7 linked regions of the Homo sapiens genome follow. The gene in region 4 interacts genetically with the main gene of each other region. Each region holds a gene or a part of one and is shown on either strand. Other genes may lie near its edges. The genes, in order: GFI1B, LEO1, SAP18, SLC35A1, COPE, SCYL1 and MED23.

Region 1 (3,494 bases), on a different chromosome or scaffold from region 4:
AGAGATCCAAGTTATGTGCTTTGAAGGCAGAGGAAGGGGCCAAGATCAGAGGCACAGACGGCCTTGGGAAGGTGAGAGACAGGAAAACAGACTCTCCTGGGAGCCTGCTGCAGGAATGCAGTCCTGCTAACACCTTGATGTTAGCCCCATGAGACTCATTTTGAGTTTCTGGCCTCTAGAATTTAAGAGAATAAATGTGTGTTGTTTTAAGCCACTAAGTTTGTGGTCATTTGTCACAGCAGCCACAGGAAACGGATACCGCCCCAGCTGCACTAGCCTTGCCCACCCCTGTGGTCTTGTCGCACGGGCCCCTTCTGCTTGCTCCTGGCTCGTCAGCGGGTCTGTGCACGTGGGGGCTGAGTACACTTCTCCACAACTTGCCTATGAGCACCTCCATGGCTTTCTCTGCTCCTCAAGCCTCCCCGCATCACTCCCCAAAGCCTCGTGCAGTACCCTGGACCTCATAGGCACTTAATAAATGCTGGTCACATGGCAGCAAATCTGTATCTTTAATTTTATTGACAGCAGTTGAGAGAACAGGCTTTTGACAGCAATAACTGCCAGTTTCTCCAGCCTCACGGCCTGGTTGTGGAGCTAGAATCCCCAGAGGCCAGCTGAGTGCTGGTCGGAAGTCGGAGTCAGCCAGCACATCTGGCCGAAGCAGAGGGGGTGCCAGGCTTCTGACTGGGGTGGGAGGCAGCTCCGACTCTGCCTGTTATAGCCAGAAAGAGGCCGGCTAAAATCCAAGGTGACCAGGTCCCAGCTCAGTGGGCAGCAGGCAGGTGGAGGTTCTGTCTGTGGGTCCCAGCTCTGGTCTACTCTTGGCATCCCTGTCTCCCTGGGGGTATTCTAGCTTTCTGTGCTCTGCTAGAGGAAGGCACTTGAGCACACCTGGAAACAACTTCTGCTGAGAAAGACCCAGCCAGGCTCCCACACTTGGCAGCAGGAGAAATGTTGATCCAGACAGGGTAAGTGACTTGCCCAAGGTCACACAGCAATTTCATGAGTCTCAAAACAAGCTGGTAGACTCCTGTCCAGTCCCACCTCCAGGAGACTGGAGATTTGGGCATGTGAGGCTGGCCTCCAGGTGACAGGACCGCAGGGCAGGCTGGCCAGGAGCTGGGAGCCGGCGCAGCCTCACTTGAGATTGTGCTGGCTCTCGCGGTGCCGCCGCAGGTCCACCTTGCGCTGGAAGCCTTTGGTGCACAGCTCACAGCTGAAGGGCTTGAAGCCTGTGTGCTTGCGGCTGTGGGTGATGAGGTTGGAGCTCTGGCTGAAGGCCTTTCCGCACACCTGGCACTTGTGCGGCTTCTCACCTGCAGGGAGGGCAGCGCAGCACAGCAAGGGCGGGGTCAGGGCCTCCTCACCAGGCCTGCTGCTCCCCTGCCCTGCCCCCGGGTTCATTTTCCAATACCTTCCTGTGTTTTCTCTCATGGCCAACTCACATTCACTTTAGAAAATAATTAGAAAAGAGAGAGAAGCAAAGATACAACTTGGACCCTCCTCCACCCCTACTGGATTATAGGGTGGTTAGGGGCAGCTGCCGAGTCATCTTGTTTATCAATACATCTCCAAGCCTGGTATACCTGGCACAAAAGAGGCACTCAGCTAATAGCAAGGAGGCAATGAATAAGCAAGTGAATGAATGAGTGAAGGAATGAATAAGCAAATGAATGAGTGAACAAATGAATGAGCAAATGAGTGAGCGAATGTGTGAATAAATGAGCAAATGAGTGAATGAGTGAACAAATGAATCAACAAATGAATGAATGAGTGAACAAATGAATGAGCAAATGAGTGAACAAATGAATGAATGAGTGAACAAATGAATGAGCAAATGAGTGAACAAATGAATGAATGACTGAACAAATGAATGAGCAAATGAATGAGTGAACAAATGAATGAGCAAATGAATGAATGAGTGAACAAATGAATGAGCAAATGAGTGAGCGAATGTGTGAATAAATGAGCAAATGAGTGAACAAATGAATGAGCAAGTGAGTGAGTGAATGAGTGAACAAATGAATGAGCAGTTCGCCTGCTAGTCTCATGTCTGCCATGAGATCAACAGTGTTGAGATTTTGCTGTTTCCTCCCTGTATTTTTTTCCATGCATTAAGTGCACTTAAGTAGCACAGGTGCCCAGCCCTCCATCAGCAGTGGCCTTTGACTTTGTAACTAGACCCCGCCCCCAGCCTCACGCTGGGGGCCTCTGATGCATCTCTCAGGGAAAGGTGGGGGTGCTCTGCCCAGGGGGCACAGGCAGGTGAGACTCACTCACCTGTGTGGATGTAGGTGTGCTTCTTCATGTCGGACTTCTGGTGGAAACGCTTGCCGCAGAACTGGCAGGGGTAGGGCCGCGTGTCTGAGTGGATGAGCAGGTGGGTGGACAGCGTGGACGAGCGCTTGAAGGCCTTGCCGCACATGCGGCACTCGAAGCTGCGCTCCTGCCGGAGGAAATGAGGCCCCGGGGGGTCAGGTGCAGGCTCAGGACTGGACCCGGCCGGGATCCCCTGCGGAACAGGACACTCCATTGGGGCGGCCTGGAGGAGCAGGACCGGGGGACCCCTCATCTCTGCCTCTGAGGTGAAACTGGGGCTTGGAGTCTCATTGGTCTCCTGTGGGATTTTTCCTTGTAATCTTCACGGTATCCCGCTCAAAATAAACCTCAATAAATGTTCGTTGATTGACTGATGGACTGACTGATCTCAGAGGTTCTTTAGGGGTTCACATTTCATGACCATTAACCTAGAGTGAGTTCCTTGAGGCAGGGATGGTTGTGGTCTGCACGGTGGTTTAGTTAAGAGTCTGAAGTTTGTTAAGGGCAGGTGTTGGAGACCCAGACCCAGGGAGGTGGGTACTAGGGGACCCCTCCCAATCTGTGTCACCCCCAGGGGCAGGGGGAGGGACCCAGCCACAGCCCCCAGGCTCCCTGGGGAAGCACAGAGAAGGAGTGGGGCTGGGAGTCCTGCGCTGGGCCAGGTGCCCACCTGGGAGTGGACGTGCGTGTGCTGCTCCAGGCTCACAGCGTGGCCGAAGGTTTTGCCGCAGATGTCACAGGCGAAGGGCCGGGTCCCACTATGGGAGCGTCGCACATGCACTTCGAGCCCGTGAGGGGTGGAGAAGACCTGGGAGCAGGGGCAGCATGTGAGGCCACTGGGGGCTGCGGTGACAGGGACAGGCCTGGGGTCCCATGGTCTCTTCCATGCCCAGCTCTGGCCAAGGCTGGGTACACAGAGTAAGGGGCACTGGATTGCCAGTTCTGCTGCTTGCTTGCTGTGTGTCCCAGGGAGGTCCGTTTGCCTCTCTGTGGCTCAGTCTCCCTTCTACAAAGTTGGATGTGAGAGAGGGGATCTGGAGGCCCCTCCTTGCCTCATCTAGAGGCTGAATAGCCCAGTGGTTAAGAGCTGGGAGTTGGCCGAAGCTGGGTTTGAATGCTGGTTCTGATATCTACTTGCTGTCTGATCCTGGAAAAGTGACTTAACCTCTCTGAAC
Region 2 (3,500 bases), on a different chromosome or scaffold from region 4:
TTGCTGTGTTGCCCAGGTTGATCTTGAACTTCTGAGCTCAAGTGATCCTCCCGCCTTGACCTCCCAAATTGCTGGGATTACAGGCATGATTGCTACTGCACTTGGCCAAGTAGACATTTTAGAATTGAGTTGCACAAGGGAACAAGAGGTGGTTGAATGCATGATACTGAAACTGGAATTATGCATTTTCAATTCTTAAATCCGAAGGATTTCCTGTAAATTTCTTATTTTCTAGTGGGTATTTATATATTTTTTTTTGAGAAGGAGCATCGCTGTGTCGCCCACGCTGGAGGGCAGTGGCATGATCTCAGCTCACTGCAACCTCTGCCTCCTGGGTTCAAGTGATTCTCCTGCCTCAGCCTCCCAAGTAGCTGAGACTACAGGCATGCACCACCATGCCCAGCTAATTTTTGTATTTTTAGTAGAGACAGGGTTTCACGATGTTGGCCAGGTTGGTCTCGAACTCCTGACCTCAGGTGATCCACCCACCTCGGCCTCCCAAAGAGCTGGGATTACAGGTGTGAGCCACCGCGCCTGGCCTTGGTACCTTATTAAATTGTTAGAAAGGGATAGTCTGGCATTTTTTAGGCACTGAATTTTTATATTTTTAATAGTACCATCTCTTCAATGTGGTATATTAACAACTACCTAAATAACCTTGATATAAGATGGTTTCTATCCAAAAGCTTTTCAGTGAGACTTCACTACTCCTCTTAATGGAAATGCAAATCAAATAAGAAAACTGAGATAAACAGGTGCTAATAATTTGTTCAAGATCACACAGTCAACAGATATACTGCTTACACTATTTTTTTTTCCTGTCCTCCCTCCACCACCCATCTACTCATCTGTTTATTAGCCCATCTGTTAATATTATTTCTTTGGGACACATGGATGTATTGATTTAGGCTTAGCAGTATCAATTTTTCATGGTTGTTTTAGTGCCTCTGGCTTTAATTCTACTACTTTTCATTGTTTCCTGTCATATACATATAAACTAATATAGTAGTTCCTTATTCACTTTTTATCAATTTATTTAATTTTGTCTTTTTCCTTTTTCTTACTTTCTGTCATGATGCTACAGCTAGTATCAATATATCTATTATATTTTTAGACCATGTGATACCAGATTCTAGTATGGGTGTCAGACTTCAAAGGCCGGGCATGGTGCCGCATATCTGTAATTCCAGTACCTTGGGAGGCCGAGGTGAGAAGACTGGCCAGGAGTTTCAGACCAGCCTGAGCAACAGAGCAAGACCTTGTCTCTACTAAAAATAAAAAAAAATTAGCCAGCAGAGATGGCGCATGCCCATAGTCACAGCTACTCCAGGAGGCTGAGGCGGGAGGATTGCTTGAGCCCAGGAGTTTGAGGCTGCAGTGAGCTGTGATTGTGCCATTGCACTCCAGCCTGTGCAGCACAGCGAGACCCTGTCTCCCCCCCAAAAAAAAATTTATAAATATGTATTTTACCCTAAAATTTCAGTGCATCAGACTACAAAATGTTGGTGTTTAACATAAACTGTTGTCTTAAAACCTTGGTGTGTGATAGGAAATAACCCTGGACCCTTATTTTCTTGAGTGATGTTTAAGACTACGCTGACCAGTCTTAAAGCATGGTGTAGTTAATTCTTTAAGAACAAGGAACCAGGGAACCAGGTACAGCTTATGTACCTCTCTGAGGTCCCCTGTCTTCAGAAATACTATTATGTGTCCTTCATCCTGATAGGTTAAGACCTAGCAATGTGTCCTATTATAGCATCATTACTATTTGAATCACTTTATATAATAGAAAGCATTTTTTAGAACGGCTTCTCAATTAATAATGGCCTATTTGTGGTTTTTTTTTTTTTTTTTTTGAGATGGAGTCTTGCTCTGTCGTCGCCCAGGCTGGAATGCAGTGGCGCAATCTCAGCTCACTGCAACCCCCGCCTCCCGGGTTCAAGCAATTCTCCAGCCTCAGCCTCCCGAGTAGCTGGAATTACAGGCACATGCCACCATGCCCGGGTAATTTTTGTATATTTTTAGCAGAGATGGGGTTTCACTGTGTTGGCCAGGTAGGTCTTGAACTCCTGACCTCAGGTGATCTGCCTGCCTCGGCCTCCCAAAGTGCTGGGATTACAGGTGTGAGCCCTGCACCCGGCATATTTGTGTATTTATATGTGGCCAACCTATTGTATGAGATGGAAGACAGGAATAGTGACAGATTGTTTTGTTTTCAATCTGAAAATTTCAAACATACACCAATGTATTAAAAACAATATAATGAACTCTTTCATGTGCCCATGACCCACTTCAACAGTTGTCGAGTTAACAATCTTTTGTCATCTACATATTCCCCACCCCAGCTTCCCCAGACTATTCTGAAACAAATTTCAGGTATGACATCATGTTTAATTCATAAATATGATGGAGTTATTCAATCAGCACACTTTATAGCTATTTGTGAGGAATAAATAGGGAAAGGGGAAAAACTGGAAGGGGGAATCATTAGGACCCAGCTGCACAGACATTTGCAGCTAAAGGAGTGGAGATCCAGACGATCTCCGTGGGACTGGGAGCAGCTGTGTTTAGGATTGACACTGGGGGAACAGGCAGAGGGAAGCATGGTCTTGGCATTGGCAGTTTTCACATTGTTGGCTTCTGTCTGTTGCCAGCTTCATTCTCATTCTTTCTATCCTTGTATGTCCTGTTTTTACTCTTCATTGTCATTTTAGTGGGTTTCCAGGAGGCAGCAGTGATAAACTGCATGCGTTTAGTATGCCATGTTTTCCTGGAGATCCCACTGACTTTACTTTCAGTAACAGTGGTTTTCATTTGCCAACTCTGGTGTTTCCCCACCATGCAGGTAAGATAGTTAGGCTCTAAACCTATTGAAATCTGGGGTTTTCATTTTCATAGGGCACTTATTTATCCTTATTCATATATGGGAAGTTTATCTCTCTGTGCCAATAGGCAGAGTTTTTGGTCTCATTTTTATGGAGTTTTTAGCTCTGTGAGAGAACTTGCTTTATACAGGGGTTTCACTTCAAAATTTCTTCCTCGGCCGGGCGTGGTGGCTCACGCCTGTAATCCCAGCACTTTGGGAGGCCCAGGCGGGCGGATTATGAGGTCAGGAGATCGAGACCATCCTGGCTAACACGGTGAAACCCTGTCTCTACTAAAAAATATGAAAAAATTAGCCGGGCTTGGAGGTGGGCGCCTGTAATCCCAGCTACTGAGAAGGCGGAGGCAGGAGAATGGCGTGAACCCGGGAGGCGGAGCTTGCAGTGAGCCAAGACTGCGCCACTGCACTCCAGCCTGGACGACAGAGCAAGACTCCGTCTCAAAAAAAAAAAAAAAAAAAAATTTCTGCCTCACATGGACTCAAGTTTTATCGCCTGACCCTTGTAATTCTTACTGTCTTAACACATCTCGGGGTTAGTGTACATTTAGTATCTGCCATCTGCTCAAATGCTCTAAGCTTTCTCTATGATTATGATTCTAGGAGCTCAGAAATTCAC
Region 3 (3,239 bases), on a different chromosome or scaffold from region 4:
TGATGGACACTTGGGTTGTTTCACCTTTTTTGCCATTGTGAATAATGCTGCTGTGAACATTGGCATACAAATGTGTTTGTGTCGCTGCTTTCAGTTCTTTTGGGTATGTACCTAGGAGGGGATTACTGGGTCATATGTTAACTTTGTTTAATTTTTGAGGAACCACCAAACTTTTTCACAGCAGCTGCACTATTTTATATTCCCCAAAAGATGTATAATTTTAAACTATTTAAGCCCTGTACACTAGAGCTAATCCCTTGAAGATTGGGACCTTACTTGTCTTATTTGGAGGTGCTTGTTAAATTTATGTAGTAGTATGATACCTGTACTTAAGCATCACTCAAGGGTAAGTGTTCTAGGAAGGTTGATTTAGCTTATATGGAAGAACTGTTGAATAATGGCTTGATGAAAATCTCTTCAGAAATTAAAGTGTATGTTTCTTCCAACAAGAGTTCCTATTTGCCAGGTGCTGTGTGTGCTTAGATCCTGAGGGTATAAAGTCAAGACGGTACTGCTCCTCCCTGTAGTAAGTCCTTTTATCAGGGAAAGCGGATGAATAGAGTGATTTTTAGGGTTAAAATGGCAGGGTGAGGTTGTTCCACAGACCTTCCACTCTGAATCAAGAAAAAAAATTACCAAAAAAATCCTGTCCTAAACTATACCGTCCATAAATTGCAACCAAACAAAGAAGGAACAACTTTAAGTTACATCTCAAAATGGTGGCCAAAGAAAAGATTCTGAAAGACTGGATGATTGGTATGGGGGTAACACAAAGGCCTGCCCTCATTCCCAGAAATAGTAATGAGGGAAAATTAGTTAACATATACTGGAAATTCTCAATTTGGAGAAGTAGACTGTGGGGTTAAATAGGCAGTCCCAAGAGAAGTTATGGAAACAGGAGTGGAAGTCCAGAGGAGCCCAGTAGAGGCAGGCTGTGTTCACCAAAGTCAATCAGGGCTCAGCCAGAAAAACAGAATTGGGAGAGATGTGTTAAGAGATTTATTTCTGCTGGGCGTGGTGGCTCACGCCTGTAATCCCAGCACTTTGGGAGGCCGAGGTGGGCGGGTCATGAGGTCAGGAGTTGGAGACCAGCCTGGCCAACATGGTGAAACCCCGTCTCTGCTAAAAATACAAAAATTAGCCAGGCATGGTGGCGGGTGCCTGTAATCCCAACTACTTGGGAGGCTGAGGCAGGAGAATTGCTTGAACCCAGGTGGCAGAGGTTGCAGTGAGCCGAGATCAGCGCCACTGCACTCCAGCCCGGGCGACAGAGCGGGACTCCATCTCAAAAAAAAAAAAAAAAAAAAAAAAAAGCTTTATTGCAAAGAATTTGGTTTACGTGATTGTGGGGGCTGTCTAGGCCCTTAATTGTCAAATCTGTAGGGCAGGTTCTCAGGAAGGAAAGGCTGCTCTTAGGGCCTTTCAACTAATAGAATCAGGCCTCCCCAGATTATATAGGATAGACCTCTGAATTTAAGGTCAATTGGTTGTTGACTTTAGTCACATCTATAAAATATCTCACAGCAATACCTAGGTTAGTGTTTGGTTGAATATCTGGGGACTGTAGCTTCGTCAAGCTGACACAAGTACTGAACCCCACCCTGTCCTCAAGCTTCTGACTAGTGATGAAAAAGCAACACTTGGCACTCCAATTGTTGGTCTGGAAAGACAGTCCTTAGAAGGTGGGAAGCTTGTGTAGGTTTCACACTGTCAGAACTGATAAAAGGTGTGATATAAATCCCCCAAATTAATTAAGAGCAAGACAATATTGAAAATATTTTTAGAAAGGAAAAAATTCTTTCTGGTATATATCATCATAAGTATGTACTGTGTATCAGAATATAGACTGAGCATCGCAAGTCCAAAATCTGAAATGCCACAAAATCTGAAACTTTTGAGAGCTGACGTGACACCGGTGGAAAATTGCACACATAAGTTCTTGACCTCTTTTTTTTTTTTTTTTTTTGAGACAGAGTCTTGCTCTGTCATCCAGGCTGGAGTGCAGTGGCGCGATCTCGGCTCACTGCAACCTCTGCCTCCCAGGTATAAGCGATTCTCCTGCCTCAGCCTCCTGAGTAGCTGGGATTACAGGCGTGCACCAAACTTCCTTTCATGCACACAATTACTTAAAATGATGTATAAAATTGTATTCCAGCTGTGTATAAGGTATGTTTGAAACATAAATGAGTTTCTTATTTAAACTTGGGTCACAACCCCAAGATATCTTACGTATATGCAAAAATTCTAAAATTTGAAAAAACCTAAAACGCTTCTAGTCCCATGTATTTTGGGTAAGGGATACTGAACCTATAATTGATACAGAATAGTTAACATCAAAATATCAGGTTGAAAAAAGGTCACCTCTGAGACAGATAAACCAATGTGACCTCAGGTTTTTTTGTTTTTGAGACAGAGTCTCAGTCTGTCACCCAGGCTGGAGCACAGTGGCACAGTCTTGGCTCACTGCAGCCTCCGCCTCCCAGGTCAAGCGATTCTCTTGTCTCAGCCTCTCGAGTAGCTGGGATTATAGGCTACAGATGTGTGCCACAACGCCTGGCTAATTTTTGGATTTTTAGTAGAAACGGGGTTTCACCATGTTGGCCAGGCTGCTCTCGAACTTGAGCTCCTGGCCTCAGGTGATCCACCCGCCTTGGCCTCCCAAAGTGCTGGGATTACAGGCATGAGCCTCCGCACCTGGCAAAAAAATGTATACTAGGTTATTTCTAAGATGCTTATATGTTAAAATATTTTTTTCAGATTGTTCTCTTATTAGCTCAGGGGACTATATGAAAGTTGGATTCAAGTCAATATTTGCAGGGTAAGAAACTATTGTGACAAGAGCCTGTGCTTCATTGTAAGAAACTTTTGTATATTTCATTGGCTCTAGTACTCTTATCTGTTGTAAAACTTACAATTCTATCTAAGAAAGAAGAAACACATCTGGCTGGGCGCAGTGGCTCACGCTTGTAATCAATCCCAGCACTTTGGGAGGCCAAGATAGGTGGATCACTTGAAGTCAGGAGTTCGAGACCAGCATGGCCAACATGGTGAAACCCTGTCTCTACTAAAAATAGAAAAATTACCTGGGCGTGGTGGTGGGCGTCTGTAATCCCAGCTACTCAGGAGGCTGAGGCAGGAGAATTGCTTGAACCTGGGAGGCGGAGGTTGCAGTGAGCTGAGGTCACGCCACTGCACTCTAGCCTGGGCGACAGAGCGAGACTCTCTCAAAAACAAAACGT
Region 4 (3,500 bases):
TAGAAAAGTGGTTCGGTAAATGGAAAGGAATAACAGCCTCAATTCTTACTTCCCTCACAGCTGTAATGGGTGTACTTATTCTTGTCGGGTGCTGTGTCATACCATGCATCTGTGGGTTGGTGCAGAGTAAGTGCTCATAGAAATGGCACTTACTAAAACCTCCCTTAACTATCCTCCACCTTATCCAGAGAAGCTTCTTCTTTCGGAAAATTGAGCAGAACTAAGCCAAGGCATGTTAAAGAAGTTTGAAGAGAAAGAGGTGTAAGGAAAATGCAAGAGGAGGGGATTGTTAGATATGAGTTCTAAATTTCTCTTCGAAGAATCAGTATGTCAGTATGTTCAATTCTTTGCCTTCTACTTTTAAATTTAACTTCCTCGTAAAGCAACCTTTTCTGATTACCCTCTCCACCCTGACTCATTCCGATTTCCTGCTCTGCCATAACCATTTTTCCCGCCAAACCACTCATCCCATCACTCTCTTTAAATTAGCCAACTGGAATTAGTTTAGCCTGTGCAGTCTAACCCTAGCCAATAGGGGAACGACAGAGCCATAGAGGCCACGTGCATAAGGAATAAGTCCCCTTTTCCTCCCTTGTCCAGGTGTGCGCTCACCATTGCTCCATCTGTGAGGGCACACCCTTCTATAGAAGGAAAACTGCCTTGCTGAGAAGAAAAAAAGAAAATTTTGTATTCGAGTGCTGTTTTTTTGTGTGTGGCACTGAAACTTTATTTATAACACATATTTTTCATATTCGAACTACTTCAAGTGGATTAGTATAAGCCTTTTCAAGATCTAGAACCAATTTTCAACACTTTCACTCGGTATCTTTCCCAAAATGATAGCCATGCTTGCAGTTGCATTATCAACTGTCTCATCACACACTGCTGAAGCTGAAGCAATCACAATGTCGTGTAACATTTCAATATTTAAATGTAATGTCTGTTTCTACATAAAAGCCTACACACAACACTATTCCTCCCTGCTTCCCTTCACTCACCAACACACATCTTGAAACCTGTATGACTTCTTAACTGCCCCAATGACTCCTATAGGTCCCCATCTCATAAATCTTTCCCCTGGTAATTTACCTATTAGATTTTATTTAATTTTCAGCACCCCATATTATTTTCTCAAATTAAAAAAATGAACAAACTGAAGCTTAAAGAGGTTACAAGTGTGTATGCAGCCACAATCTCAGTCTAGGATTAAAATTAGGTCTATCTCCTCCAATGCCCCTAATTCTTAACCCTCTCTTATACCACATCCTTAGCTAAACAATTCTTGCATGATGTTTTTGATTCAAAGCCCGGTGCTGCCACATATTAACAGTGTAATCTTAAGGAACCTCAGATGCTGCGTCAATAAAACAGGGGTAAAGTACTTACCTTGAAAATGTGGAAGAAGTAAATGAGAAAACACAAAAAACACATAGCACAGTGCCTAGCACTTAACATAGGAAACACTCAAGAAATGTTATTATTATTATATTCATCCAAAACACAAGTCAATAATTGTTTTCTGTAAGGGCCAAACAGTAAATATTTTAGGCTTTGCAAGCCAGTCAGTCTCCATTACACCAAAACCAGGGAGCAAGCTGGATTTGGCCCATGAGACATAGTTTGCCAACTTCTATTCTACAGCAGCGTTCTTCAACCTCAGCAGTACTGACATTTGGGGCTGGATAAATCTTTGTTGTGAGGCTGTCATGGGGATTGCAGGATGTTTAGCAGCATCCTTGGTCTCCACCCACTAGATGCCAGTAGCATCTCTCAAGTTGTGACAACTAAAAAATCTTCTGGGGGGCAAAATCACCCCTAGTTGAGAAACACTGACCCAGAGCAATTAAACATATAAAGATGTAGCTTGAATTTTCTAACAAATACCCTCACCAGGTAGAAAAATAATTTAACACACTATAAGTATTTATACTCACTTAGCTAAAATTCCCACACTTAGCAATAACTTTATAACTTCTGTGATACACACGGCTGTGGTTGAAAAGTAGAGTTCTTTGTCTGATGTCCTTGTGTATCTTAAAGCTATGGTATAGACTGCAGCCATCAGGGTCATCACTGCCAAGCAGTATAACTTGAATAATAAAGTGACATTGTCTGGAAAATACGTGCAACAAAGACATTACTTAGTAGACAATATATGTATATATAAGTTAATAAACTAGTTATAGCCTAAAAATACTTTCCAATTCCAAGCACAAAATATTTTCTAAAACTCATGCTTAAAAATTTTTTTCAAAACAATGTTTGCCAATTACATGAGCGTGCACACACACACACACACACACACACCACAGCTGACTTTAAACATCAGCCAATTAGGCATAAGTTTTGTTCCTAGGGAGTGCCCCAATTGCAAGACTATGTAGCGTACTGATTCTAGTTCAGGATGTTATAAATTACATTATATATATATTGGTGGTGGTGGTGGGTTTTTTTGGAGACAAGGTCTCACTCTGTCCCCCAGGTTGGAATACAGTGGCGCGATCTCAGCTCACTGCAACCTCCACCTCCCAGGTTCAAGCGATTCTCGTGCCTCAGCCTCCCGGGACTACAGGCGTGCACTACCACAGCCAGCTAATTTTTTGCATTTTTAGTAGAGATGGGGTTTCCCCATGTTGGCCAGGCTGGTGTCTAACTCCTGACCTCAAGTGATCCGCCCACCTCCGCCTCCTGAAGTGCTGGAATTACAGGTGTGAGCCACCGTGCCAGACATATATTTTAGGACAGGGTCTCACTCTGTCACCCAGGCTGGAGTGCAGTGGCATGATCTTGACGTGATCTCGGCTCACTGCAAACTCCACCTCCCGGGTTCAAGCAATTCTCCTGCCTTAGCCTCCTGAGCAGCTGGGATTACAGGCACCCGCCACTACACCCAGCTAATTTTTGTATTTTTAGTAGGGAAGAGGTTTCACCATGTTGGCCAGGCTGGTCTCGAACTCCTGACCTCAGGTGATCCACCCACCTCGGCCTCCCAAACTGCTGGGATTACAGGCATTAGCCACCACGCCTGGCCCCAGCACATATTTTAAATATTTTTATGATTACAAACTTGTGGATGCAAAGCATGAAACCAACTGCAGCAATGTATATTCTAGATTTAAAGGCAGCAGAAAGAAAATAATAATTGAGAAATGAGTGGGGCTTAATATAAAACTTTTTCACAATAAGAACTTACAACTAGCCACTCATTTCATTGCATTATACAAAACAATAATTCATAACACAGGAAAAGAATATTAAGAACACACCTCTATAAAACTAGAAATGCAGGAAACATATAAACACTTAATTTAAGAATTGCCTGCAAGTATATCTGAGCAGCAGCCATCTCTCAGGCACCAGAGCCTGTCCAAGACCTTTGGTAAAACCATAAGCAGTGGGTACCAAGTCTCCCTCATACTTCCTTATTCCCAGACCTGCTCGGGTACTGCCATCACCCAAGGATCAAACTATTTCTACTTTCCTCACCCACCTCCCACCTA
Region 5 (3,500 bases), on a different chromosome or scaffold from region 4:
AAACAAAGCAGGGACCCAGGCCTGCAGTGTTCAGTGACTGTGAACAGCCAGCGCAGCCAGCATGTGAAGGTGGCTGTGTCACGGAGGCCTGAGACTGCCAGGCCAGGGGGCCTGGGTCACAGCTTCTTGATTTTTTTTTTTTTTTTTTTGAGACGGAGTCTCACTCTGTCGTACTCGATCTCAGCTCACTGCAACCTCCGTCTCCTGGGTTCAAGTGATTCTCCTGTCTCAGCCTCCCAAGTAGCTGGGACTACAGGCGTGCGCCACCACGCCTGGCTAATTTTTATATTTTTAATAAACACGTGGTTTCACCACATTAGCCAGGGTGGTCTTGAACTCCTGACTTCATGATCCACCTGCCTCAGCCTCCCAAAGTGCTGAGATTACAGGCGTGAGCCAACGCGCCCAGCCGATTTTTTTTTTTTTCCTAAAATAATTGGTAGGAGCCAGGCACAGTGGCTCACACCTGTAATCTTTGGGAGGCTGAGGTGGGAGGATCACTTGAAGCCAGGAGTTCAAGACCAGCCTGGGCAACATAGTGAGACCCCCGTCTCTACAAAAAAAAATTAAAAAATAAGACAGTCATGGTGGCATGTGCCTGGAGTCCCAGCTAATTGGGAGGCTGTGGCAGGAGGATCAGTTGAGCCCAGGAGGTCAAGATTACAGTGAGCCGTGATCACGCCATTGCACTCCAGCCTGGACAACATAGCAAGACCTTGTCTCTAAAAAAATAAGAATGGGGGCTGGGCCCGGTGGTTCACGCCTGTAATCCCAGCACTTTGGGAGGCCAAGGCGGGCAGATCACCTGAGGTCAGGAGTTCGAGACCAGCCTCAACATGGAGAAACCCTGTCTCTACTAAAAATACAGAATTAGCCAGGTGTGGTGGTGCATGCCTGTAATCCCAGCTACTTGGGAGGCTGAGGCAGGAGAATTACTTGAACCTGGGAGGCAGAGGTTTCGGTGAGCTGAGGTCACAGCATTACACTCCAGCCTGGGCACCAAGAGCGAAACTCCATCTCAAAAAAAAAAAAAAAAGGCCGGGCGTGGTGGCTCACACCTGTAATCCCAGCATTTTGGGAGGCCAAGGTGGGTGGATCACAAGGTCAGGAGATTGAGACCATCCTGGCTAACACAGTGAAACCCCGTCTCTACTAAAAATACAAAAAAATTAGCCGGGCGTGGTGGCGGGCGCCTGTAGTCTCAGCTACTCGGGAGGCTGAGGCAGGAGAATGGTGTGAACCTGGGAGGTGGAGCTTGCAGTGAGCCGAGATCACGCCACTGCACTCCAGCCTGGGCGACAGAGCGAGACTCCGTCTCGAAAAAAAAAAAAATGGGGAAGGAACCATCTAGGAGGGAACACAATGAGGGACGGGCCCCCAGCTGCAGATGTGACAGTGGTATCAGTCTGGGCATCCTCAGAGGGCCAGTAGGTGGGCAGGGCTGGCTGGGGGCATGTCCTGCTTTATAGAAGCGCATGTCACAACCCCCATAACTGCTGCTGCCCTGCCCCCAGGTGACACGCCCTTCACCTCACCACCAGAGGTGGACAGCTGCCAGGGGATAGACAGTAACCTACCAGGGTCCCTAGCTCAAGGCATGGGCAGTGTGGCCCTGCAGATGAGGGCACACCTGGCTGCTCACGACAGGTGACGCCATGCCACCCTCCACAGTGTACTGCAGTGGAGGTGGCCCATGCTGGGCTGAGGGGTCCCTGGTGGGGCAGGGACTTCCTGTCTGGGGCTCTCCCTGCCAAGCTGAAGACATGGAAATCCTCTGGGGTGGACGGGTGCAGCTGACGCCTCGTCCCTACTGCAGAGGAAGTTCGGTGTGGTCCTGGATGAGATCAAGCCCTCCTCGGCCCCTGAGCTCCAGGCCGTGCGCATGTTTGCTGACTACCTCGCCCACGAGAGTCGGAGGTGAGGCCCCAGAGAATGGGTTGGCCTGAGGCGCGGGGCCATCTTCAAGGCCTGTTGGTTATGAACCTGGGTGGGTGGGGGCATGGCGTGCAGCGCACAGCATCCCTCAGATTAGGCGCCTCTCCCCTCTGCTCCCCTGCTGCTTTGTGCCTCAGTTTCCCTCACCTGCACAGCAGTGGGGGGCTGGTGATGGATCCTGCTTCAAAGGGGAGGGTCAGAGACAGTGCTGTGTGTGCACACGCCCTCATGGACCACAAGGCACTCTCTGAACCTAGAACTGAAAATATCAATTACCGAGCAGCCCTCTGCAACACCCAGAGCCCCAAGACAGCCCAGGGCGCAGCGGGGGCAGGGCCCTCCCATCAGTTTTCTTATTTATTTATTTAGAGATGGAGTCTCACTCTGTCACCAGGCTGGAGTTGCAGTGGTGAGATCTCGGCTCACTGCAACCTCTGCCTCCTGGGTTCAAGTGATTCTTGTGCCTCAGCCTCCTGAGTAGCTACGACTATAGCTGCGTGCCACCACGTCCAGCTAATTTTTGTATTTTAGCAGAGACTGGGTTTCACCGTGTTGCCCAGGGTGGTCTCGAACTCCTGAGCTCAGGCGGTCTGCCCACCTCAGCCTCCCAAATCCTATCAGTTTTCTAGTCCCAGCTAGTTGGGGACTGCAACCTGCCAGTATCTCCCCTGGAGCCCAGTGGGAGGGTGGGTGAGGCCACGCCTGTCCTGCCCCTGAGCCACAGGCCAGCGTTGGTCAAACGCCCATGGGCGGCAGCCAAGGGGAGAGGGGGCTGGGCTGTGGGGACCCAGGAACCTTGCCCCCTCCTGCTGTGGGGTCGGAGTGAGGGTCTGGCATGGGGAGACTGCTGTGATCCTGCTCTTCCTTGGCCCACGGAGGCAGTGTCCCAACTACCGCCTCCCTTCACTCAAAGAAACCTGGGGTTCCTGGGAGCTGACTCCTGTGCAGAGGCAGCATGGTGGGGTGAATGGTGTCCCCCAAAAGGTACGTCCATATCCTATCCCACATGCTTGTGAATATGATATCATTTGGAAAAAGGGTCTTTGCCGATCAGATTAAGAGATAAGGAGATGAAGACATGCTGGATTTAGGGTGGGCCCCAAAGCCAAGGACTTGTGTCCTTTTAAGAGATAAAAGGAGGGCTGGGTGCAGTGGCTCATACTTGTAATCCCAGCACTTTGGGAGGACGAGGTGGGCAGATCACCTGAGGTCAGGAGTTTTCAAGACCAGCCTGGCCAACGTGGTGAAACCCCATTTCTATTAAAAATACAGAATTAACAGGATGTGATGTCTGTGATTCCAGCTACTTGGGAGGCTGAGGCAGGAGAATCGCTTGAACCTGGCAGGCAGAGGTTGCAGTGAGCCAAGATCGCACTAGTGCACTCCAGCCTGGGTGACAGCGGGAGACTGTCTTAAAAAAAAAAAAAAAAAAAGGAAAGAGGCCCACAGAGTTAAGCCCATGTGACAACAGACTGGAGTGACATGTCTGCTAGCCAAGGAGCACCACGAGTGGCCAGCAGCCACCAGAGCTGGGAGAGAGGCCTGGGACGGCCTTGCCCTCCAGC
Region 6 (3,500 bases), on a different chromosome or scaffold from region 4:
CATGTTGAAGAAAGGGACCCCATTTCTGTCCCCCTTTACAGCAAAACCTCCAAAGTCTGTCTGCACTCCTGTTTCCCATTTCCTCTGCTCTGCTCTCCTGATGGCACTCCACCTAGACTCACACAAACAGCCCCACACTCTGCCAAACTGGCTCAGGGTGAGGTCACTGATGCCCTCCCCGGTACTAATTTCAACAGCCAGTTCTCCATCCTCACCAAACTTGACCCTCAGCAGTTCTGACACCCCTGAGTTTTCCCTCCCTGAAACTTTGGTCTCTGGTCTTCCAGGACACCACCCCCTCCTGGTTCTCCTCTGACCTGGCTGGCTGCTCCTTTTGCTGAGACTCTAACGTTCACACACCCGGAGCCAATCTAGAGGGCTCTTTTCTATCTAACACTCTTGCCCTAGGTGATCTCAGCCATTTCATGGCTTTCAATGCCATCTTGTGAGCTGACAACCCCCAGGCACATACCCCTAGCCCAGACTTCCCTAAATTTCACACATGCATAACCAGTGGCCAACTCGACATCTCCATCCAGCTGCCTAACAGAAACAGCCAAGATGGGGCCCAACATGCTTGTGTCATCTCAGTAAATAGCAACTCCTAACCTTCCAGTTGCTCAGGCCACAAGCCTCAGAGCCACTCTCGTCTCCGTATCTTTTTTGTTTCTGAGATAGAGTCTCACTCTGTCACCCAGGCTGGAGTGCAGTGGTGTGATCTCTACTCACTGCAACCTCTGCCTCCTGGGTTCAAGCAATTCTCCTGCCTCAGCCTCCTGAGTGGCTAGGATTACAGGCGCCCACCACCATGCCTGGCTAATTTTTTTAATTTTTATTTTATTTTATTTTTTTGAGACGGAGTCTTGCTCTGTTGCCCAGGCTGGAGTGCAGTGGCGCGATATCGGCTCACTGCAAGCTCCATCTCCGAGGTTCACACCATTCTCCTGCCTCAGCCTCCCAAGTAGCTGGGACCACAGGCGCCCACCACCATGCCCGGCTAGATTGTTTTTGTACTTTTAGTAGAGACGGGGTTTCACCATGTTAGCCAGGATGGTCTTGATCTCCTGCCCTTGTGATCCGCCCACCTCAGCCTCCCAAAGTCTGGGATTACAGGTGTGAGCAACCGGGCCCAGCCATTTTTTGTATTTTTAGTAGAGATGGGGTTTTACCATGTTTTACCATGTTGGCCAGGCTGGTCTCAAACTCCCATCGCCTCAGGTGATCCACCCGCCTCGGCCTCCCAAAGTGCTGGGATTACAGGCATGGGCCACCAGGCCCGGCCTAAAATAATTTCTTAAATTTTGAGATGAGGTCTCACTCTGTTGCCCAGGCTGGAATGCAGTGTCACGATCACAGCTCAATGCAGCCTCAACCTCCTGGGCTCAAGCTACCTACCTGCCTCAGCCTCCCGAGTAGCTGGGACTATAGGCGTGCATCACCATACGCGCCTAACTTTTGTATTTTTTTGTAGAGATGGGGTTTGGCCATGATGACCAGGCTGGTCTCCAACTCCTGGGCTCAAGCGATCCTCCCACCTCGGCCTACCAAAGTGCTGGGATCACAGGCGTAAGCCACTGCGCCCAGCCCCTGACCACTGTTTTTAAAACCACAAACTCTTCTCCCCACACTTTCCAACAATGCATATTTTCTTTCTTTTTTTGAAACAGAGTTTCCCTCTTGTTGCCCATGCTGGAGTGCAACGGCATGATCTCGGCTCACTGCAACCTCTGCCTCCCAGGTTCAATTGAGTCTCCTGCCTCAGCCTCCCGAGTAGCTGGGATTACAGGCATGCGCCACCATCCCCAGATGGTTTTGTACTTTTTAGTAGAGACAGGGCTTCGCCATGTTGGTCAGGCTGGTCTCGAACTCCTGACCTCAGGTGATCCGCTTGCCTCAGCCTCCCAAAGTGCAGGGATTATGGGCGTGAGCCACCGTGACCAGCCAACAATACATATTTTCTAATTCTGTTGTATTGTCTGGCAAGCCCACCCTCTGTGCCCTGGAAAGGAAGCTCCATGAGTGCAGGGGGCTGGGCACCTCATGCATGCTGCCTCCCAGCATGGGGCTTGGGCCAGGAACAGGCAGATGCTCGTTGTCTGCTGAATGGAGGACGTGCTCCCCCGCCAGCTGCCGAGCTGCACCCACGGCCTGAACCCACACAGCAAGGACAGTGTCTGCTTGGACCCATGGGCCAAAGCCAAGGCCTCTGTGTCTAGGGTGAGCCCCTCCAAGCCTTGGAAAACCAGGGGTAGCCACTCTGGGCCTGGCCACACCCACCTTGACCGTCTGCTCCCGGATGGCAGGGTTGGTGTCCAGGAAGCCATGTACGACGTGGGGGAAGATCTGGGTGTTGACTGTTGGCTCGTCAAGGTACTGGATGAACTGCTCCATCTGTGGCCCAGGTTGGGATGCGTCAACATGGTCAGCCCTTCCCACTCTATCCCCATAGCCATGGAACCGCTCCTGGCTTAGCTTTTCCACCCAGCAGGCACTGGCCAGCCAGGTCAACCTCCTGAGCCACCACCCAGGTGTTTGGCCTCAGGCCCAGGTGGAGGAGTGAGGAAAGGCCAGGAGGGCGCTAGGAAGGCCTGGCTCATAGTCCGGCTCATCTGGCCACCCTCTCAGAGCCTCTTCTATTTTTTTTTTTTTTTTTTTTCTGAGACAGAGTCTTGCTCTGTCACCGAGGCTGGAGTGCAGTGGCGCAATCTCAGCTCACTGAAACCTCTGCCTCCCAGGTTCAAGCAATTCTCCTGCCTCAGCCTCCTGAGCAGCTGGGATTACAGGCACCCACCACCGCACCTGGCTAATTTTTGTATTTTTAGTAGAGACGGGGTTTCGCCAAGTTGGCCAGGCTGGTCTTAAACTCCTGACCTCAGGTGATCTGCCTGCCTCGGCCCTCCCAAAGTGCTGGGATTACAGGCATGAGCCACTGCGCCCAGCCTGAGCCTCTTCTATAAATGAGGGTATCACCCCTTCCCTGCTCCTCCCCACCTGCCCACAGTGCCACGAGGAGGACTGGTGTGTTTGGTGGTCACAGAGGGAATGGCACTGGGAGCCACTGGTACTTCCTAGATCCCATCCATCTTGTCTGATGCTCCCAGCTGCCCTGGGGTTGCAGGAGAAAGACTGTATCCCCACTCTAGAGGGCCAGAGTGACTGAGCCAGGAGAGGAGGGGGCATTAGAGCGCTGCAGCCTGGGCAAGCTGGCCATTCCCAAAACTGCCAAGGAGCCCTGTATGTGGCCAACTTTCTGAGAGCCTGGCCTCATTGGGTCCCTCAGTTGTGTGTATGTTCAGGGGTGGGGTTTCTGGGGTCCCTGTGCAGCCAGGGCAGGTGCCTCCCCAGCCACCAGGTTGGGGTCTGGGTGGACCACCACAGAGTCTGGTACAGAGGCCTCACCTGCTGCAGGAGGCGGATGCGCATGGCCCGGTCAGTGGATGAGAACATCTTGACCACCACAGGGATGATCTTCTGCTGATACTCCTCAGCGCTCAGGAACT
Region 7 (3,500 bases), about 44 Mb from region 4:
TTCAATAACACTGGTAAAGAAACTTAAATAGATACTTCAGAATTTAATCATGTCACAGGAAACCCAGATTATATTTTACCTCTATCATACAACGAGTTCTCTCTTGCTGAAATCTTTGTAAAAATGGTCCAACAAGATGGTATACATAAAGCAACTGGAATTCGGTCTTCACTATAGGAAGAAGTACTTCAGTAAGAAACCTAAAATTTGAAGATAAAAATCTCCTGTGACTTGAAATTATTTAAATTGTTTGAATTTTGTTCATACAGTATATACAAAGTATTACAATAAAATATAATTTTTTAAAGTTCCTTTTAATTTGGTAACAATAATATTTCTAATTAATCTCACATCTCTCACTGGCTATTACTTTCACTTGATTATTTTTATTTATTTATTTTTTTGAGACGGAGTCTCACACTGTTGCCTGGGCTGGAGTGCAGTGGCGTGATCTTGGCTCACTGCAACCTCCGCCTCCTGGGTTCAAGTGATTCTCCTGCTGACTAGCTGGGATTACAGGTGCACACCACCACGCCTGGCTAATTCTTTTATTTTTAGTAGAGACGGGGTTTCACCATGTTGGCCAGGATGGTCTCAATCTCCTGACCTTGTGATCCACCCATCTCGGCCTCCCAAATTGCTGGGATTACAGGCATGAGTCACCGCGCCCAGCCGCAAGTTGTTCTAATGAATGAAGTATATACCTCATCTGTTAATGAGATTAGAACAAAATGAAATACAATTTTTTTTTTTTTTTCAGATGGAGTCTCACTCTGTCACCAGGCTGGAGTGCAGTGGCGCGATCTTGGTTCACTGCAATTTCCAGCTCCCTGGTTCAAGTGATTCTCCTGCCTTAGCCTCCCGAGTAGCTGGGGTTACAGGCACACACCACATGCCCAGCTAATTTTTGTATTTTTAGTAGAGATGGGGTTTCACAATGTTGGCCAGGATGGTCTCAATCGCCTGACCTTGTGATCTGCCCACCTCGGCCTCCCAAAGTGCTGGGATTACAGGCATGAACCACCGCACCCAGCCTACGTCAAATTTCTTTAAGAAATTATTATACTTACTTTGGAATGAGAGAAAGTTGTCCGATGCTAGAATGGTGCCACACAGCATGTGCAAGAGCTAACGTATAGCTACAACTCATCTCAGAGTAGGACTGATGACAGGCAGTGAAATCAAAGAGGCGGAATGGATAGCCAACCCACTCTGTTTCAGACGTCAAGCTGGGGCTGCTGATGACACTCACAATTCGATCATGAAGAACAATCCAATATGGCTCCTTTAAAATCGGAGGAAAGCTAGTGAAAAATATCACTTATCCAGCATTCCACCCCAAAGTCTAAAGTAATAGTGTTTTCTCATTCTTTAAAGTTTTCTATTTTTCCAGCTTCTGCACAATACAGCTGGGTGGCTTTGTAACTGGTCAAATTAAGTCAGTAACAACCTGGGAGAAGTAACTGTGAGTTAAGGGGCTCCATACATGTATCTGTCCAGCTCATTTAGGTACCTGATATACACTATGCAGTAAATCAATTAATTTATCAAACAATAAATCTATAGCTTTATTACTTATTTAAAAATAATAAACTTTAAAAAAATATGTGTGGAGGTCAGAGAAAGGAGTCTTCATGTGAGCTGGAAAAGTCAGGGAAGGCTTCATTCACTGAGAAAGGAGGCTCTAAGCTAGCAAAGAATGAATAGGCTTTAGAGAAGGTGATGGAAAGAAGAAGCTTCTGGAATAAGAAAAATGTCTTATTCCCTCACATTCAGAAGTACCTAAAACATGTCTTAAGCACTATCTGAAGGAACAAAGGCTGTAGATATACAACACGTTAAGTGGCCAAGAGTAGATCAAGCTATTATGTAAAAACTAAAGTTGGATAGGTAAGGTGGTACCAGAAAATGCAGAGACCCGTAAGTCACATAGATATATTTAGATCTAATACAGAAAAGCAAAAACTAGTCACTGTAGATTTTTAAAGCAGTAATAATATGAAAAAACTTTAAAAACATAAAATACTTCATTAATTTGCATGACGTCCCGTACAAGGGCATCCTATATGCATCTTTTTCTTTTTGCTGACATGGAACAGCTGGCTGTATTTCATCACTAAGTACAAATCACAATTATTAACTCACTGGTAGGGCAGTGATGATCAAACCAATTGCATTCATCCATGCTGTAATGTTCTCTCTTGGCACTAAAGGCTGACTGCAACCGGCAAAAAAGAATGTAAGTATGAATTTATAAAAACATTTTAGATGGCTGACAACGGATCTTATTTTTAAAGAATATGTCTAATTCAGAGGATCGACAACTAATCCATTTCAATAAAACAATGGGGAATTTTTTATTGAATAAAAATGTAATATGCATAAAAACTCAAGAAGGCTTTTTAAAAATACTTCCTCCCCAATCATTATCCCATACTTCATGCTAATTTTTAAAAGAATCTTGAAATCTTGAAAACAAGATGAAGAGAATCTTGTTTTAAGTGACAAGTTAACATTATTCCTATATTAAATGTCAAACTGCTATTAATGAGTAGAAGTAGGAACAAACCCGGATCTTAGGATCCTGTCCAGGGCTCATTCCATAACTCCTATATCACAAAGACAAGATCTGGAACCAGAAAACAGTCATCATCCAATGTGCATCAGCCTTGCGGCAACAGGTTTGTCTTAAAAGTTTGAAATAGAATACCATTCTATTTACAAATAAACAACAAATCTTACTGCATGAACCAGAATACATACCTTTTTAGGACAACATTTAGAAGGGCATTCCCAACTTCTTTGCCTGAAACTGCCAAGGCCATGAGCTCCACACAAGTAACATGGAGAGCATGGGCAGCTGGGTTGGGAAACTCATTGAATCTCCAGTCACAGTTTGGAAAGGGACCAGGAGATTTGCCAGCCATCGGTGCACACAGTTAAAGCAATAACAATTGGACTATCTCATCTGATTGTCAATTTATCTGATTATGAGCTGCCAAGAAGTGATTTGTCTACGCTTAGAGAGATTAAGAGGCAAATGCAAACCAAATACAAATGAGTTTGACATGATTGAAATGTATTAAAAGCAACCATTTGATTAACCACAGGTATAAATGGTTGGTCTTTCAGGTGGGTTCTTATAAATATGACATATAATAGCCACAGATGCAACCAAGGTTTACCTAGGTTTCATGAGCCTATTTCTTTTAATAGTTATAAGACATTAATATGAAAATTATTTTCTAATGAGTCATTCTTTTGCTTCAGAAAATAAATTCCTTTGTGTAGGAAAATAAGTCATGCTCATTTATGTAGAATTTCTTACCTAGTAAAATAGTGGTATGGTTATAGACATTAAGTATAGAGTGCTAATAACTGAAAATATAAAATCAAAATGAAGAAATAAACATCCAAGTATATTTTCACTAAAATATACCTTTTCAATAAAGAAAAATATATTTTATCATTTATTATTTACTACAAACATTAATTTTTTT

What was found.
Region 1: changes in SLC35A1 (region 4) and GFI1B together harm fitness less than expected from each alone (positive genetic interaction), as found in Homo sapiens cells (one large-scale study listed by BioGRID).
Region 2: changes in SLC35A1 (region 4) and LEO1 together harm fitness more than expected from each alone (negative genetic interaction), as found in Homo sapiens cells (one large-scale study listed by BioGRID).
Region 3: changes in SLC35A1 (region 4) and SAP18 together harm fitness more than expected from each alone (negative genetic interaction), as found in Homo sapiens cells (one large-scale study listed by BioGRID).
Region 5: changes in SLC35A1 (region 4) and COPE together harm fitness more than expected from each alone (negative genetic interaction), as found in Homo sapiens cells (one large-scale study listed by BioGRID).
Region 6: changes in SLC35A1 (region 4) and SCYL1 together harm fitness more than expected from each alone (negative genetic interaction), as found in Homo sapiens cells (one large-scale study listed by BioGRID).
Region 7: changes in SLC35A1 (region 4) and MED23 together harm fitness more than expected from each alone (negative genetic interaction), as found in Homo sapiens cells (one large-scale study listed by BioGRID).

What each region holds. Positions count from the first base shown.
Region 1 is NC_000009.12:132,988,694-132,992,187, reverse strand, and holds the end of GFI1B (zinc finger protein Gfi-1b), read right to left. Parts: intron 3,128-3,494; coding exon 2,990-3,127; intron 2,513-2,989; coding exon of another isoform or gene 2,447-2,512; coding exon 2,281-2,446; intron 1,451-2,280; coding exon of another isoform or gene 1,431-1,450; exon of another isoform or gene 1,349-1,430; intron 1,317-1,348; coding exon 1,138-1,316; 3' UTR 501-1,137; downstream 1-500. UniProt on the Homo sapiens protein: Essential proto-oncogenic transcriptional regulator necessary for development and differentiation of erythroid and megakaryocytic lineages.
Region 2 is NC_000015.10:51,954,779-51,958,278, reverse strand, and holds part of LEO1 (RNA polymerase-associated protein LEO1), read left to right. Parts: intron 1-3,500. UniProt on the Homo sapiens protein: Component of the PAF1 complex (PAF1C) which has multiple functions during transcription by RNA polymerase II and is implicated in regulation of development and maintenance of embryonic stem cell pluripotency.
Region 3 is NC_000013.11:21,143,119-21,146,357, forward strand, and holds part of SAP18 (histone deacetylase complex subunit SAP18), read left to right. Parts: intron 1-1,973; coding exon of another isoform or gene 1,974-2,166; intron 2,167-3,239. UniProt on the Homo sapiens protein: Component of the SIN3-repressing complex. Enhances the ability of SIN3-HDAC1-mediated transcriptional repression. When tethered to the promoter, it can direct the formation of a repressive complex to core histone proteins.
Region 4 is NC_000006.12:87,475,974-87,479,473, reverse strand, and holds part of SLC35A1 (CMP-sialic acid transporter), read right to left. Parts: intron 2,113-3,500; coding exon 1,935-2,112; intron 1-1,934. UniProt on the Homo sapiens protein: Transports CMP-sialic acid from the cytosol into the Golgi apparatus, functioning as an antiporter that exchanges CMP-sialic acid for CMP. Binds both CMP-sialic acid and free CMP, but has higher affinity for free CMP.
Region 5 is NC_000019.10:18,909,388-18,912,887, reverse strand, and holds part of COPE (coatomer subunit epsilon), read left to right. Parts: intron 1-1,816; coding exon 1,817-1,917; intron 1,918-3,500. UniProt on the Homo sapiens protein: The coatomer is a cytosolic protein complex that binds to dilysine motifs and reversibly associates with Golgi non-clathrin-coated vesicles, which further mediate biosynthetic protein transport from the ER, via the Golgi up to the trans Golgi network.
Region 6 is NC_000011.10:65,531,583-65,535,082, reverse strand, and holds part of SCYL1 (N-terminal kinase-like protein), read right to left. Parts: coding exon 3,400-3,500; intron 2,392-3,399; coding exon 2,278-2,391; intron 1-2,277. UniProt on the Homo sapiens protein: Regulates COPI-mediated retrograde protein traffic at the interface between the Golgi apparatus and the endoplasmic reticulum. Involved in the maintenance of the Golgi apparatus morphology.
Region 7 is NC_000006.12:131,590,243-131,593,742, forward strand, and holds part of MED23 (mediator of RNA polymerase II transcription subunit 23), read right to left. Parts: intron 2,930-3,500; coding exon 2,764-2,929; intron 2,219-2,763; coding exon 2,146-2,218; intron 1,286-2,145; coding exon 1,071-1,285; intron 201-1,070; coding exon 80-200; intron 1-79. UniProt on the Homo sapiens protein: Required for transcriptional activation subsequent to the assembly of the pre-initiation complex. Component of the Mediator complex, a coactivator involved in the regulated transcription of nearly all RNA polymerase II-dependent genes.